Homo sapiens: one gene and its partner. The protein of the gene in region 1 interacts with the protein of each later gene in a pairwise test. Each region holds a gene or a part of one and is shown in the gene's direction. Other genes may lie near its edges.

Region 1 (7,020 bases):
CAAGTGGGTAGGTTTATGTCCAGCATCTCATATTCCACTAGGTCTTCAATACATGCTCAGTCTGGAGGCAAGGAAGTGACACAGGTTCTTGGAAAATGTGTTGTGGCTTATGCTACTAGGTCTCATGGCCCAGAGATTGTGTGGGATGTATCTGCCTGCATAGCTAATCACATATTACTGTGTTTGAAAGATATAAACTTGAACATTTTAATCTTTCTCTGTCTTGGCCTTACTTGGCTAATTTTTGTTAAACTAAGTCATAAATATATTCTACATCTACTCAAGGTTCACTTCATTCAGTAGATACCATGGGAATAACTAAAGTTTACCGAAGGCTTACCAGGTGACAGGCACTATCCTGATCACTTACCCTGCATTATCACAACTGTATATGACCCTTATATTCTCTCTTTTTTTGTTGTTTTCTTGAGACGGAGTCTTTCTCTGTAGCCCAGGCTGGAGTGCAGTGGCACATACTTGGCTCACCACAACCTCCGCCTTCCAGGTTCAAGTGATTCTCCTGCCTCAGCCTCCTGAGTAGCTGGGACTACAGGCATGTGCCACCATGCCCAGCTAATTTTTGTATTTTTAGTAGAGACAGGGTTTCACTGTGTTGGCCAGGCTGGTCTCAAACTCCTGACCTCGTGATCTGCCCGCCTTGGGCTCCCAAAGTGCTGGGATTACAGGATTGAGCCAACCGCGCCTAGCCATGACCCTTATATTCTATGAATAAATCAAGGTACAAGGTAAACCTAGTAAATCGTAGAGCCATAATTTAGGCCCAGATCTGTCCTAATCATACCTCCCTGGAATATTCATGGTGGGGCTTCAGAGAAACTACATGGAAAATGTGATGTGTGTGTGTACGCACATGCCTGCATTTCAAGACATTATTGACACCAAAGGTTAAGAATCACTAATGCAGTGGTTCTTTCATTTTAAATCCGGCAGCCCCCAGGATCACAGCAGATTCAGAAGACTCCTTGTAATTGTTCTTTATCCTTGTGTCCCACTTTATGAAATTCTTTCCCTGGGTATTTGCCTGAGGGCCTTTTCTAGCCACAAAGTACTGTTGGCCTCCACAAAAGAAAATTTCAAAATATGGAAGCCTAGCCCGACGAATATTGGAGTGTCTTTTTTTTCTGTTTTAAGTTTCAGTGTCATCAGATGTATCATGACCCTACAGATTTTGCACGTTCTGGCATTTGTGCATTCTTGTGTGCATATCTGACTGGGAGATCCGATGAGACTCCCGGAAGTGGGTCTCAATCCTGCCTTAGGTCTGAGCTAAGGAGTCCTTCTCAGAGCACCTCACCATGCCCTTTGAGAGTCATAGCTCTGTGTTTGACATCTTGGGAGTTGGTAAACAAGATGTTTAAACAAGGTATTTAACATACATATCATAGCTCACTGCAGCCTCAAACCCCTGGGATGAAGTGATCCTTCTGCCTTAGCCTCCCAAGTAACTGAAACTACAGATGCCCAGCTAATTTTTTTAAATTTGTTGTAGGGGCCAAGTGTGGTGGCTCACACCTGTGACCCCAGCTTTAGGACCCCTGTGACTTTAGGAGACTGAGGCGGGTGGATCACCTAAGGTCAGGAGTTCCAAGACTAGCCTGGCCAACATGGTGAAATCATGTCTCTACTAAAGATACAAAAATTAGCCAGGAATAGTGGCAGGAGCCTGTAATCTCAGCTAGTCAGGAGGCTGAGGCAGGAAAATCACTTGAACCAGGGAGGCAGAGGCTGCAGTGAGCCAAGATCATGCCATTGCACTCCAGCCTGGGTGACAAGAGCGAAACTCCATTTCAGAAAAAAAATTGTAGAGACAGGGTCTTCCTATGTTGCCTAGGTTGGTTGGTCTCAAACTCCTGGTCTAAAGCAATCCTTTTTTTAAAAAACAGGGTCTCTCTCAGTTGTCCACGTTGCAGTACAGTGATGCGAACACAGCTCACTGCAGCCTTGACCTCCAGAGCTCAGGCAAATCCTCCTGCCTTAGACTCTCTAGTAGCTGGGACTACAGACACATAGCACTACACCTGGCTAATTTTTTCATTTTTTGTAGAGATGGGATCTCACCATATTGCCCAGGCTGGTTTCAAACTCCTGGGCTCAAGCAGTCCTCCCATCTCAACCTTCCATAGTGCTAGGATTACAAGCATGAATCACTGCACTCGGCCTACAGAAATATTTTATTTGTGCGTGTTAGAGCATGTCTTACAAAGGCTTAAGTTGAAGAGACATTCATGCAGTATTTCAGTATAACTCTGGGTAGGTAAAGGTTCCACAAGCCTTGAGAGATAACTTTACCTATTTGAAAAGCTCTAGGCCGGGCACAGTGGCCCACGCCTGTAATCCCAGCACTTTGGGAGGCTGAGGCGGGCAGATCTCGAGGTCAAGAGATCAAGACTATCCTGGCCAACATGGTGAAACCCCATCTCTACTAAAAATACAAAAATTAGACTGGGCGCGGTGGCTCACGCCTGTAATCCCAGCACTTTGGGAGGCCGAGGTGGGTGGATCACGAGGTCAGGAGATCGAGACCATCCTGGCTAACACGGTGAAACCCCGTCTCTACTAAAAATACAAAAAATTAGCCGGGCATGGTGGCGGGCACCTGTAGTCCCAACTACTCGGGAGGTTGAGTCAGGAGAATGGCATGAACCCGGGAGGCAGAGCTTGCAGTGAACCGAGATCACGCCACTACACTCCAGCCTGGCGACAGAGCAAGACTCTGTCTCAAAAAAAAAAAAAAAAAGAAAAAAGCTCTAATTCATGATTTGTTGGCTTGGATAAAAGGAAAATTTTGAACATGGGACCCTGACTTAATGAATATTTGAATGTTTTTCTTTTCCAATTTTAAGTTTCAAGTGTCGTCAGATGTATCACGCACCCACAGACTGTGCCACAATCCGGAAATGGCTCACGAAGTGTGCAGACGACTCTGAAACAGCCAACTACATTAGTGCTCACACTAAAGACGTAAGGACCGTATTTTACCTCTCATGGATTTGCCCTCCTTAGTGCTGCCCAGGGCCTTGCCTTGGAGATTTGCCATCTGAGAGCAGAATACCCAGAGCCCCAGGACCCTTCCTGAGGACTGGGGGTTTGGGGACCCTCACACAGAGTTGGCAGCTCGTAGCAGTTTATTATAGGATGCATTGGGTGCATATTTTCTTTATTATGATGAAATGCCAAAATGCCAGGAAAGGGGGACCCAAAGGGGGAGCTAATTAGAAGAGAACTAATTATGATTGAACGCCTACCAGCCTTTAACAGCCCTGAAAGGGAGGTGGTTAATAGCCACACTTGATACATATAAGGCTGTAATGCAAGCCCAGACCTGCACGATACTCATTTTGAAGTCTCCCATGGGAAAGTATGGCCTGTGGGCTCTAGGGGCCACTGTACCCTTTGTCAGTCACTCGCCGAGTCAGTGCACTCACAAGCACAGTTACGATAACGACATTATTAAACATAGTCGACTTCACGGCAGTGGGAGATCACAGCATCAGACTGGTGTCTTCATTGCTGCCTCAGGTTGCTGGCATCTCTCAAATGGGAGAGATGAGCTTTAGATGTGGTTTCCTTGCCCTCTTCTCGAAGCAGAAGTTCAGGCAAGCTGACCAGGACTGAATCCATTGTGGCAGCTCCTGTGCTTCTTTGGCAGTCCTCTCAAGAAGGCAGGCTTTCTGCTGATTCAACTTGTGCTTAATCTGAGTAGCTTCATGGCAGGGGCAGATGGTGGAAGACTTAGTGGGGTTCAGCTGGTGCTTGAAGCATTTCAAAGCTAAATGTGCTGACCTCATTTCCTTGAATTGCTGTTCCAGCCTCAGCGACCTGCCACATTTAAGTGAGGTGCTCCTCCCCAGAAGTGCTCACACCATGAGCAACTGGGCACAGGTGCCAGGAGCTTTGTGTAATTTGTCTTAAAACCAACCTGGTGGTGTGTGAGCCTAATGGCACCCTTCTGTCTCCTCAGTGTCCCAAGTGCAACATCTGCATTGAGAAGAATGGAGGCTGCAATCACATGGTGAGCAGAAGCCTCTGCAGTTTGCATGTGTGACATGGAAGCTTTGGTCAGTGTGCCCTTAACGTGTTTTCTTCTGTTTCCCTCTGACAGCAATGCTCCAAATGTAAACACGGTGAGTTCCAAGCTTGGTGTGTAAGGCCCAGTGGCACTTTCTTGTGGTTGGGTCTCCGTTACTATTTAAGTGAGTACTTCTGCCATGAAATGACAAAACATAGAAGAACCTCAGTCACTTAACAGTCACAGTAACTGGCATAAAGTAGCTTTTTATTTTTATTTTCTGTTTTTTGGTCCCTCTTATAATCCCACTGCTATCTTGCTAACACATATAGTCAGAAGTCAAGTTTGGGATAAACCTCATGATCCTCAGTTATCCAAGAAGATGATTTCAGGGTGTTGCTTTCATTTTTTTGCCAAGGCAGGTAAGTAGCTTGGGGCTTATCTGTGCTACGTTGTAGATACCTTTACCAGAAGTAGTAAAATAATGGTTTTCCCTTGCCGTTTTACAAAGTTTCTAGTGGGGGTTTTGATTTAGCCTTTCAGACCTCCTTCATCCATCAGGAATAATTTACATAGCTAGAACCCATGTATGCCATCCGGCCAGGTCAACTGAAGAAACAGAATCCCTTCAAGTAGAAAATATGTCCAAGTGGGTCTTCTACGCAGCTGCTTTGATGCTCAACAGGAGCCCCTGACAGTTTCTTTTTTTTTTTTTTGGGAGAAGGAGTCTCACTCTGTCACCCAGGCTGGAGTGCAGTGGCGCAGTCTTGGCTCACTGCAACCTCCATCTCCTGGGTTCAAGCAGTTCTCCTGCCTCAGCCTTCCAAATAGCTGGGATTACAGGCATCTTCCACCACGTCTGGCTAATTTCTGTATTTTTAGTAGAGATGGGGGTTTGCCATGTTCGAGGCTGGTCTCGAACTCCTGACCTCAGGTGATCTCCCTACCTTGGCCTCCCAAAGTGCTGGGATTACAGGAGTGAGCCACTGTGCCCGACCGAGAATTTTGCTTTGTAAGGGCCTATGCAAATGCTATTTCCAGGAACCCTCTTTTCTTTATTTTTTGAGACAGAGTCTCAGTCTGTCGCCCAGGCTGGAGTGCAGTGGTGTGATCTTGGCTGACTGCAACCTCCACCTCCTGGGTTTAAGCAGTTCTCCCACTTCAGCCTCCTGAGTAGCTGGGATTACAGGCACTCACCACCACACCTGGCTACTTTTTTATATTTTTAGTAGAGACGGGGTCTAACCATGTTAGCCAGGCTGGTGTCCAACTCTTGACCTCAGGTGATCCGCCTACCTTGGCCTCTTAAAGTGCTGGGATTATAGGCATGAGCCACCGAGCCTGTACTTTTTTTTTTTTTTTTCCAAAGATGGAGTTCTGCTCTTGTCGCTCAGGCTGGAATGCAATGGTGTGATCTTGGCTCAATGCAACATCTACCTCCTGGGTTCAAGCGATTCTCACTCCGCCTCCCCAGTAGCTGCTATTACAGGCGCCCACCACCACACCTGGATAATTTTTATATTCTTAGTATAGATGCGGTTTCACCATGTTGGCCAGGCTGGTCTCGAACTTCTGACCCCAGGCAATCCGCCTGCCTCGACCTCCCAAAGTGCTGGGATTACAGGTGTGAGCCACCGCTCCCGGCCCCAGGAGCCCTCTCAATCAGAGTGGTCATGCCAGGATCTTAGACAGCAACATTGACTCTGCAGTGCCAAACGAAGATAGGCCATGGGTAGTGGCATATTTCTTCTGTGGGGCCACATTCTTTCGCTCTCTTTTTCTTTGTATATATCAGAGAGAGAAGTGTATCATACACTTAGAACAATGCAGAAGACACAGAGTTTAAAGAATAATGACAAACATCCCAGCACCCACCACATTCCTAGTGCCTAAGAAGCCCCCTGGGTGTCCATATCCCTTGACACCCAGAGTTCACTGCCATCTCACGAGAATCACTTGAACCCCGGAGGTGGAGGTCACAGTGAGCCGAGATTGTGCCACTGAACTCCAGCCTGGGCGATAGAGCGAGACTCTGTCTCAAAAAAAAAAAAACTGGCTGGGCGCGGTGGCTCACGCCTGTAATCCCAGCACTTTGGGAGGCCGAGGTGGGCGGATCATGAGGTCAGGAGATCGAGACCATCCTGGCTAACATGGTGAAACCCCATCTCTACTAAAAAAAAATACAAAATTAGCCAGGCGCAATGGCGCACTCCTGTAGTCCCAGCTATTCGGGAGGCTGAGGCAGGAGAATCGCTTGAACCAGGGAGGTGTAGGTTGCAGTGAGCCAGGATCGCACCACTGCACTCCAGCCTGGGCAACAGAGTGAGACTCCGTCTCAAAAACAAACAAACAAACAAAAAACTGCCATCTCTTTCTTTGCTGTATGTTTTATACCACCTATATGGGCAACCGTAGGGAATGTGGTTTTTTGTTTTGTTTTGTTTCGTTTTTTGAGATGGAGTCTCACTCTGTCACCCAGGCTGACAGGCTGAGTGCAGTGGTGCGATCTCGGCTCACTGCAACCTCCACCTCCCAGGTTCAAGCAATTATCCTTGCTCGGCCTCCTGAGTAGCTGGAACTGCAGGCACATGCCACCATACCCAGCTAATTTTTGACAGAGTCTCACTCTGTCGCCTGGGCTAGAGTGCAGTGGTGCGATCTCGGCTCACTGCAACCTCCGCCTCCTGGGTTCAAGCGATTCTCCTGCCTCAGCCTCCCAAGTAGCTGAGATTACAGGCGTCCGCCACTATACCCAGCTAATTTTTTGTATTTTTGGTAGAGACGGGGTTTCACCTTGTTGGCCATGCTGGTTGTGAACTCCTGATCTCATGATTAGCCCACCTTGGCCTCCCAAAGTGCTTGGATTACAGGCGTGAGGCACCGTGCCCGGCCTGTATTGTTCTTTAAAATGGTAGCAAGCACACCTAGCTAATTAAGGAGAGGGCATTGTTGCCACTATTAGGTGAAGGCTCCCAGGAGGAGAAAAATTG
Region 2 (7,487 bases), on another chromosome or scaffold:
TCACATTGGATTTAAGGGCCCACTCTATCCCAGCAGGACCTCATTTCAACTTAACAGTGGCAAAGATCCCACTTCCAACAAAGTCACATTCTAAGGTTCTGGAAAGGACACGCTTCTTTGGAGGACATTATGTAACCCAGGACAAGTACCATGCAAGGGAAATTTGTGTGTGTGGAGTATGGCGCCTAAACCATCAAGACAGGAAGGCAGGAACAGCAGAACGGCAATGGGAGGGAGGGAAGGAAGTGGAGGGTGGTAAATTTTGCTTGCTTTGCAGCTTTTCACAGGGCCCCGAGAGTGCTTTTAGCACTAAGGATGTACAGTCACGCACCGAATAATGGTTTGGTCAATGGCATACATGACTGTGATCCCATTGTAAGATTATAATGCTGTATCTTTACTGAACCTTTTCTATGTTTAAATATGTTTAGATACACAAATACCATTGGGTTACCATTTGCTTACATAATTCAGTACAGTAGCATGCAGTACAGGTCTGTAGCCTAGAAGCAACAGGCTATACCCTATTATTCTAGGTGTGTAGTAGGCTACCTCTAGGTTTGTGTAAATACAGTCTATCATGTTAGCACAAGGACGAAATCACCTAGTAATGCTTGTCTCAGAACATAGCACTTTCGTTAAGTGAGGTATGACTGTACTTGAATCACCAGGACTAGGATGGAAGGCTGCACACTGTAACCCACCCAGCTTCCACCCAGTTTTCTCAAGTCTAGACTTCTCTTTTTCCCCTTTTAGATGAAGGGAAGAGGTTTAATATTAGAAATCAAACAAGACTCAAAATTGGGAAATGTCAAAACTTTGTCACTTTGGGCAAATCATTTGATCTCTCAGTCTGTTTCCTCCTCCTTAAAATGAGGATGTTGGACTGTTTTCATGTCTGTAAAAAGAGGATGTTGAGGATGATCATTAAGGGTGCTTCTGGCTCTATAAGCTATTGCTCTAGGAGGAAGCAGTGGAACTGTGCTCCCCTGTCACTGTTAAGAGGATAGATTTTCAATATGACCAGTGGCTATCCCCATTTTTTAACAAGCATATCTATCAGACAGCATTTGTAACGGTAAACAACAGAAATTGGTTATCTTGAGCAAAACAGGGATTTATTAGAAGGCTTTGGGGACTGGCACCAGGATCAATTTGGTGCAGGTACCTTATTACAGTAGATGTGATCCCATCCTCTTCCAGGAGCTTTCCATGATTATATCACTTGCACAACAGTAAGCATCTGGACAAGAGTTTCTTTTCTTTTCTTTTCTTTTCTTTCTTTTCTGGTTTCTTTTCCTTTCTTGCTTGCTTGCTTGCTTGTTTATTGAGATAGAGTTTCGCACTGTTGCTCAGAATGGAGTGCAGTAGCATGATAGTGGCTCACTGCAACCTCTGCCTCCTGGGCTCAAGCAATCCTCCAGCCTCAGCCTCCTGAACAGCTGGAACTATAGGCATGCGCCATCACGCCCAGCTAATTGTTGTATTTTTAGTAGAGACAGGGTTTTGCCACGTTGCCCAGGCTGGTCTCAAATTCCCTGGCTCAAGTAATCCACTGGCTTTGGCCTCCCAAAGTGCTGGGATTACAGGTGTGAGCCACTGCGCCCAGCCTGGTTCTTTTTGTAGACAGAGTCTTGCTCTATTGCCCAGGCTGGAGTGTAGTGGCATGTTCATAGCTCACTGCAACCTGGAACTCTTGGGCTTAAGTGATCCTCCCACCTCCATGCCACTACGCCCTGCTAATATTTTAATTTTTTGTAGAGATGACATCTGGCCATGTTGCCCAGGCTGGTCTCGAATCGCTGGCCTCAAGTGAACCTCCCGCCTTGGCCTCCCAAAGTGCTGGGATTACAGGTGTAAGCCTCCCTGTCTGGCCTAGGCAAGAGTTTAAGTAGGTGAGTCATGGGCACATATCTTAGCTGTGCTGGGTGTTGTTAGGGCAAAGATAAGATTTCCTCCAAACGGAGAGTGAGTGCTGATGGAAAAAAGGGTTCATTGGCAGACAGCCAAGAAGATATCACATGTTTATGGCCAAGAAGTGTTTGGAATTCAGCCATGCATGGAGATTTTAATAGTATATCTAGACACTAATATCTCTACCCTGAAGTTGTTGCTATGTTATTGTTATCACTATGTAGTGGTAAAGGGCTCATATTCTGAAATCACAGAGGCCTAAGCCTGAATTCCAACTCTGCCCCACAGTAGCTGTGACTTTGGGAGAGTAAATTACTACTATCACACTGCAAGTCTCAGTTTCCTCATCAGAAATATGGCGGTGATGTTAATACTGACCTTATAGGATTGATATGAAAATTGAAGGATATGACATATTCAAAAGAGCTGAATGCAAGGCCGGACTCATGAAGTTTTATTACCTAGATTAGGCCCCTAGGGGTTTTTGTGCATTATTTCATGTAATCTTACAACTATTTGACATAATTAATATCGAGCCCCCTCACTCACCCTTTACAAAAGTAGAAACTGAGGTTCCAACTGAGAAACTTGTTTGAGGTCACACAGCTGTATGACCTGTCAAAACTGTGCTTCTGCACCAGCTCTGCCAGACTCAGAACCCCAGGGTCTTAACCATACATTTAAGTGTCTCCTAAAAGAGTCAACACTTCCCCATCCTGCACAGCCCCATTGCTGCGTGAAAGGCTCACTAACCCCCTGCTGCACAGCTCCTACTGGTTGTCATTTTAGAAAATATAGGGAGACACTGGAACTCCGAGGCAGTAGGATTGAAACGTTTGCTTCTTTTCTTTTTTTTTTTTTTGAGACGGCATCTAGCTCTGTCACCCAGGCTGGAGTGCAGTGGTGCGATCTCGGCTTACTGCAACCTCCGCCTCCCGGGTTCAAACGATTCTCCTGCCTCAGCCTCCTGAGTAGCTGGGATTACAGGCAGCTGCCACCACGCCCAGCTACTTTTTGTATTTTTAGTAGAGATGGGGTTTCACTGTGTTGGCCAGGCAGGTCTCGATCTCCTGATCTTGTGATCCGCCCGCCTCGGCCTCCCAAAGTGCTGGGATTACAGGCATGAGCCACCGTTAATTACTGTTTGTTGTGTTTCCCACTAACTTCTCTGACAATTCTATTTCAACCTACATTCTCCAATCACTGTAATTAGATATTTGAGAATTGTGTTGCATTTCAATCACGGTAACAATAATGGTAGTATTTTATTAATAAATTCAAGTAAAAACTGAAGATGACAATGATAGTGTATGATACATGACATCAACTTTGCATCACCTAAAGATCCAACTTTTCTGTTATGAATCTAGATTTCTTGGGGAAATCCAGATTGTATATTGGACATAGGAATTAAGATTACTGGACTTGAACTTTTTTGTAACTAACAACTTTATTGAGATATAATTCGGGTACCAACTCATACCTGAACAGCTTTTTAGACTTTTTTTCTAGCCCTTTTTTCTCTGTCCTTTCGGTTTTCTTTTAAAAAGGTCCATACTATTCAAGAAACACAACTTTTAAAGTCCACAATAATTCTCATTAGATTTTAATATTTATCTCCCCCCAAGCTTTACTGAAATACTAATGATATTCATTTTTTTAACCACTTTTCATCGTAAGAGAAATACAAATTTTCCTATTGATTCTTATGCACAAAAATCAAGTTTTTGTGGTACTGCTATACATTAGTAGTATGTTCAGCCAGTTTCCAAAGAAATTAGTCAAGATCCCAACATGCAACTTGTATACCACACTACCTTGGAATTCGGCGGCACAAACAACTATTCCTTGTACAAAACCTCCCTGAAAACGACTAAATGGAAAAGTGGATGGCTTGAAACAAGGAATGTTTGGTTTTTTAAAAAGCATTTTTCACAATTTAGTCGAGGTGTGGGGAGGGTTTCCCCACTTGTGGCTCTGCACAGCGTGCGCGCGCGTCTGTCCTGGGGTCCCCTCCCTGCGGGGACGAGGCCGGGGTCCCCGCGCGAGCCCAGCGGACCTGGGCAGTGCGGGGGTCCGACCGCCCGCCACAGGGGGACAGGGACCGCAGCCGCCAAATCCGCGGGGCCGGGGAACGAGGAGACTTTCCTTTCCGCGTTAGCCGGGGCCACCCCCGCCAGAGGGAAAGCACCAAAGGAAAAACCAGGACAGGGACTCTGGGGGCCGGAGGAGCGGCCTCCTGCAGGCACCAGCGGAGGGGCGCGGGGGTGGGGGAAGGGATCAGGGCTCCGCGCTCCGTCCGCCCCACGACCCCGGCCCGGCGCCCCTCCCCTCGGAACCCCCACTTAGTGCCCGGCCCCCGCCCCGCCCCGCGCGGCCCCCGGCCTCAGCCCCGCGCGCCCCGACGCCCCGCCTGCGCCGCGGGCCCGAGTAGTGGACGGGGGGCGGCCCGCTCGGCTCCTCCGCACCCGCTCCCCGCTCGGGCCGAGGCGCCGCGGCCGCGCGCCCCTCCTGGAGGAGGAGGAGGAAGGAGGCGGGAGGAGGAGTTGCCGAGAGGAGAAGGCGAGCGCGGCAGTCGCGCCGGCGCTGGGCGAGGAAGCGGAGCCGGGCCGCCTCCGGGTAAGCGTCCGGGGAGCTCGGGCGGGAGGCAGGGGCAGGGCTTCGCCGTCCGCCTCCGGGTCGCCCGCGGTCCGGGACACGGCTGGTTTTCGCCTCGGAGTGCAGGGGGCGGATCCGGCGCGGGCCGGGCCAGGGAGGCCGCCGGGCGCGGGGCTGCAGCGACGGGTCTGGGTCAGCGCGAGGCCCTGCGCCGTCTCGGCGGGTGCGCGGGCGGGGGCCAGGGCCGGGGAACGGGGGCCGGGGCCAGTCCCGGGAGCGGGGACGCGGAAACCGGGAAGCCGGGGCCGGGGCGCGGCGGCCCCTGAAGGGCCGAGGCCTGCGCGGCCGCGGACGGCTCTTCTCGACCCCTCGGCCTCTTCGGCCGCGGCGCGCCGGCCTGGGCCGCCGCCTTTGTTGCCCGCAGCTCGCCGGGGAGAGGCCGGGGCTCCGCGAGGCCTGGGCAGCGGCGCGGGGCCTGCGCGGCTCTGCGCCCCGGCCGGGTCCCTCCTCGGACCTCCGCGGGCTCGGGCTCGGGCTCGGGGTCGGGGCGCGGCGAGGCCGCAGGCGCGAGGGCGGGCCTGGGGCGCGGCGCTGGGACTCGGGGACGCCCCCGCCCCACCGCGAGGTCGCGCCGGCGCTGGTGGAGGTGCAGGCCGGGGCTGCTCTGCGGCTGAAGGTGCCGCCGGCCGGCTGCGCACTCACCCGGGTGTAGGGACCGGACGATTGTGGAATTTAAACCGCTCCTGGGACCGACACGGGCCTGAATTTTCAGTTTGCTTCGGGAGTTGGCAACTTCAGGTACACCCTTGTGGCTCACGGAGCAGAATTATGGACGTTTCTCAGGGGCAGATCCTGGCACAAAACTTGGGATATGTGCAGTAGTGTGTGTGCCAACTTAACGTTCAGTTGGAATGTGAAATTGGGGTTCCCATCCCCACTGTTTGGAATGAAGGGCCAGGTGGGAATATGTGGCGGGACTCAGTCTTCCGGTAGCAAAATAAATAATGTTGAATTCATTTCAACAAATGTTTCTGCAACGTCTGCCCGGATAAGGCAGCATGCACTGTGCATGAGGACAGAGAACACAGTAATGACAGAAATAACGTGAATTACACACTGAACGTCTCCCAGAGACATTTTAAATTTACTGTGTTCCTTGGGATAAAGATACATTTGGAATCAAACAAAAGTAAACGTTCTACTTCAAGATAAAATATCTGACATCTTCTCAACCACTGAAGGTAGCAATTTATCTTGACTTGTTTTTAACCAACTACCACAACATTAAATCCATTTAGCTTACTTGAATGAACGAATCTTAATTGTAATATTTAATGCTGTGGACAGCCTTACTTAAAAACACGAATGGCATTGCTCACCAGGTTTCACAAAAACCGGAAAAAAAGTCTGTAATACTTTTCCGTGGGCTTTCTAATTTCTCCTCCTAGTGGGTTTTGTGCACGCGTGGATATGGTAAGGTCTAGGATCCATTCAGCTCTAAATTAAATATGTGGCCTTAACCCTTTGGTTCAAACACCCTCCCTAAGCCTGCCTTGGTGCCTTGGAGGAACCTGGTTCGTGGACAGTGGATTTGATAAGGATTCCTAGAAGAACTTCTATCTGGAGTTTGGCCAGGGCTTTCCGCTTGTGCCTGGGTAAGGGTCAGCCAGGTATTCACCCGAATCTATACTTTTTTAGAACTCCATTCAGCATCTCTTTTGAAACACTGTTTCTCTCTTACCTTTATCGTTATCTTCTAAATTACCCTCTAAATTGGTAGTCTTGCCCCTTTCTCTTCAGCAGGGCCTCCCACCCAAGCGCACACCCTCGGGTCATCCCATGACCCCCTCTCTTGGTGGGCCCCCCACCCCGCAGGGAGTGGCAGGGAAGGAATTTGAGAGCCATTGACTGGGCGTAGGGTGGAAAATGGTGCTGTACTGACTGGGTTTCTAGTCATTTTGCCTTCCAGTGTTTTTCTTCATTCTTGCATTAGAACTGGAAAAGGTGTTCTTTTAATGGCCCCCCTTTTTTTAGGAAACAGAAAGCAAGTATCTTCTTTTTTGTTTTTCCTCTGTCACCCAGGGTGGAGTGCAGTGGTGCAATCATGGCTCACTGCAGCCTTGAACTCCTGGGCTCAAGTGATCCACCTCCCTCAGCCTCCTGAGTAGCTTGGACCACAGACATGTGCCACCACACCTGGCTGATTGTTTTTTGGAGAGGTGGGGTCTTGCTGTGTTGCCGAGGCTGGTCTCAAACTCTAGGCCTCAAGATCCTCTCACCTCAGCCTCCCAAAGCCCTGGGATTACAGGCACGAACCACCACACCCAGCCTGCAAGTGTCCTCTTAAGCCTTCTTGTGTAACTACACTCCTTAGAGAAAAATCTTGCTAGTTTTCTCCATTATGGCCAGTTTTCAGGAAACTTTTGGGTTATTGATCATATCTTTTATTTTGCTCATAGAGGTGTGATCTTATTTAAAAGTCCAAACATATAGATGGTCCCCAATTTTGGACTTTTTGACTTTTTGATGGAGCAAAAACGATACACATTTAGTATGCACTTCGACTTACATCCAGATAAACCCACTGTGAGTTTTGACTTTAAGATATTTTCAATTTATCATGGGCTTATTGGGACTCAATTATTGTTATTCTCTTAAAAATATGCACTCGTGACCTCTTCCAATTCTGGAAATTATATTTACATCTGTGGTGCCGAAGTACTTTTGTAAAATTATTCATTTTACAAGGGAGAAATTCCAAATACTAGTATATGTCATAAAAAGGAGAAACTTTCTTATATGGCTAGATTGATAGAAATAATTGTTCAGCTGTTAAAAGAGGAACAACGTAAGATGTGTTTGATATTGTTTTGAAGTGAAATTGTCATTAATGTTTTTATGGGTAATTTATTATGCTGTTTGGCGTGTTGGTTTAGCTAATAAGTCGTGATGGCTTTAGGGCTGAGGACACAGTT

Evidence for each region.
Region 2: the proteins of ARIH2 (region 1) and SOCS6 interact in binary tests that used the Homo sapiens proteins (3 or more experiments, as listed by UniProt).

The regions. Positions count from the first base shown.
Region 1 is NC_000003.12:48,970,835-48,977,854, forward strand, and holds part of ARIH2 (E3 ubiquitin-protein ligase ARIH2), read left to right. Parts: exon of another isoform or gene 1-7; intron 8-2,864; coding exon 2,865-2,982; intron 2,983-3,830; exon of another isoform or gene 3,831-3,982; coding exon 3,983-4,033; intron 4,034-4,123; coding exon 4,124-4,145; coding exon of another isoform or gene 4,146-4,214; intron 4,215-7,020.
Region 2 is NC_000018.10:70,284,558-70,292,044, forward strand, and holds the start of SOCS6 (suppressor of cytokine signaling 6), read left to right. Parts: upstream 1-4,487; 5' UTR 4,488-4,533; exon of another isoform or gene 4,534-4,735; intron 4,736-5,110; exon of another isoform or gene 5,111-5,310; intron 5,311-5,339; exon of another isoform or gene 5,340-6,167; intron 6,168-6,183; exon of another isoform or gene 6,184-7,487. UniProt on the Homo sapiens protein: SOCS family proteins form part of a classical negative feedback system that regulates cytokine signal transduction.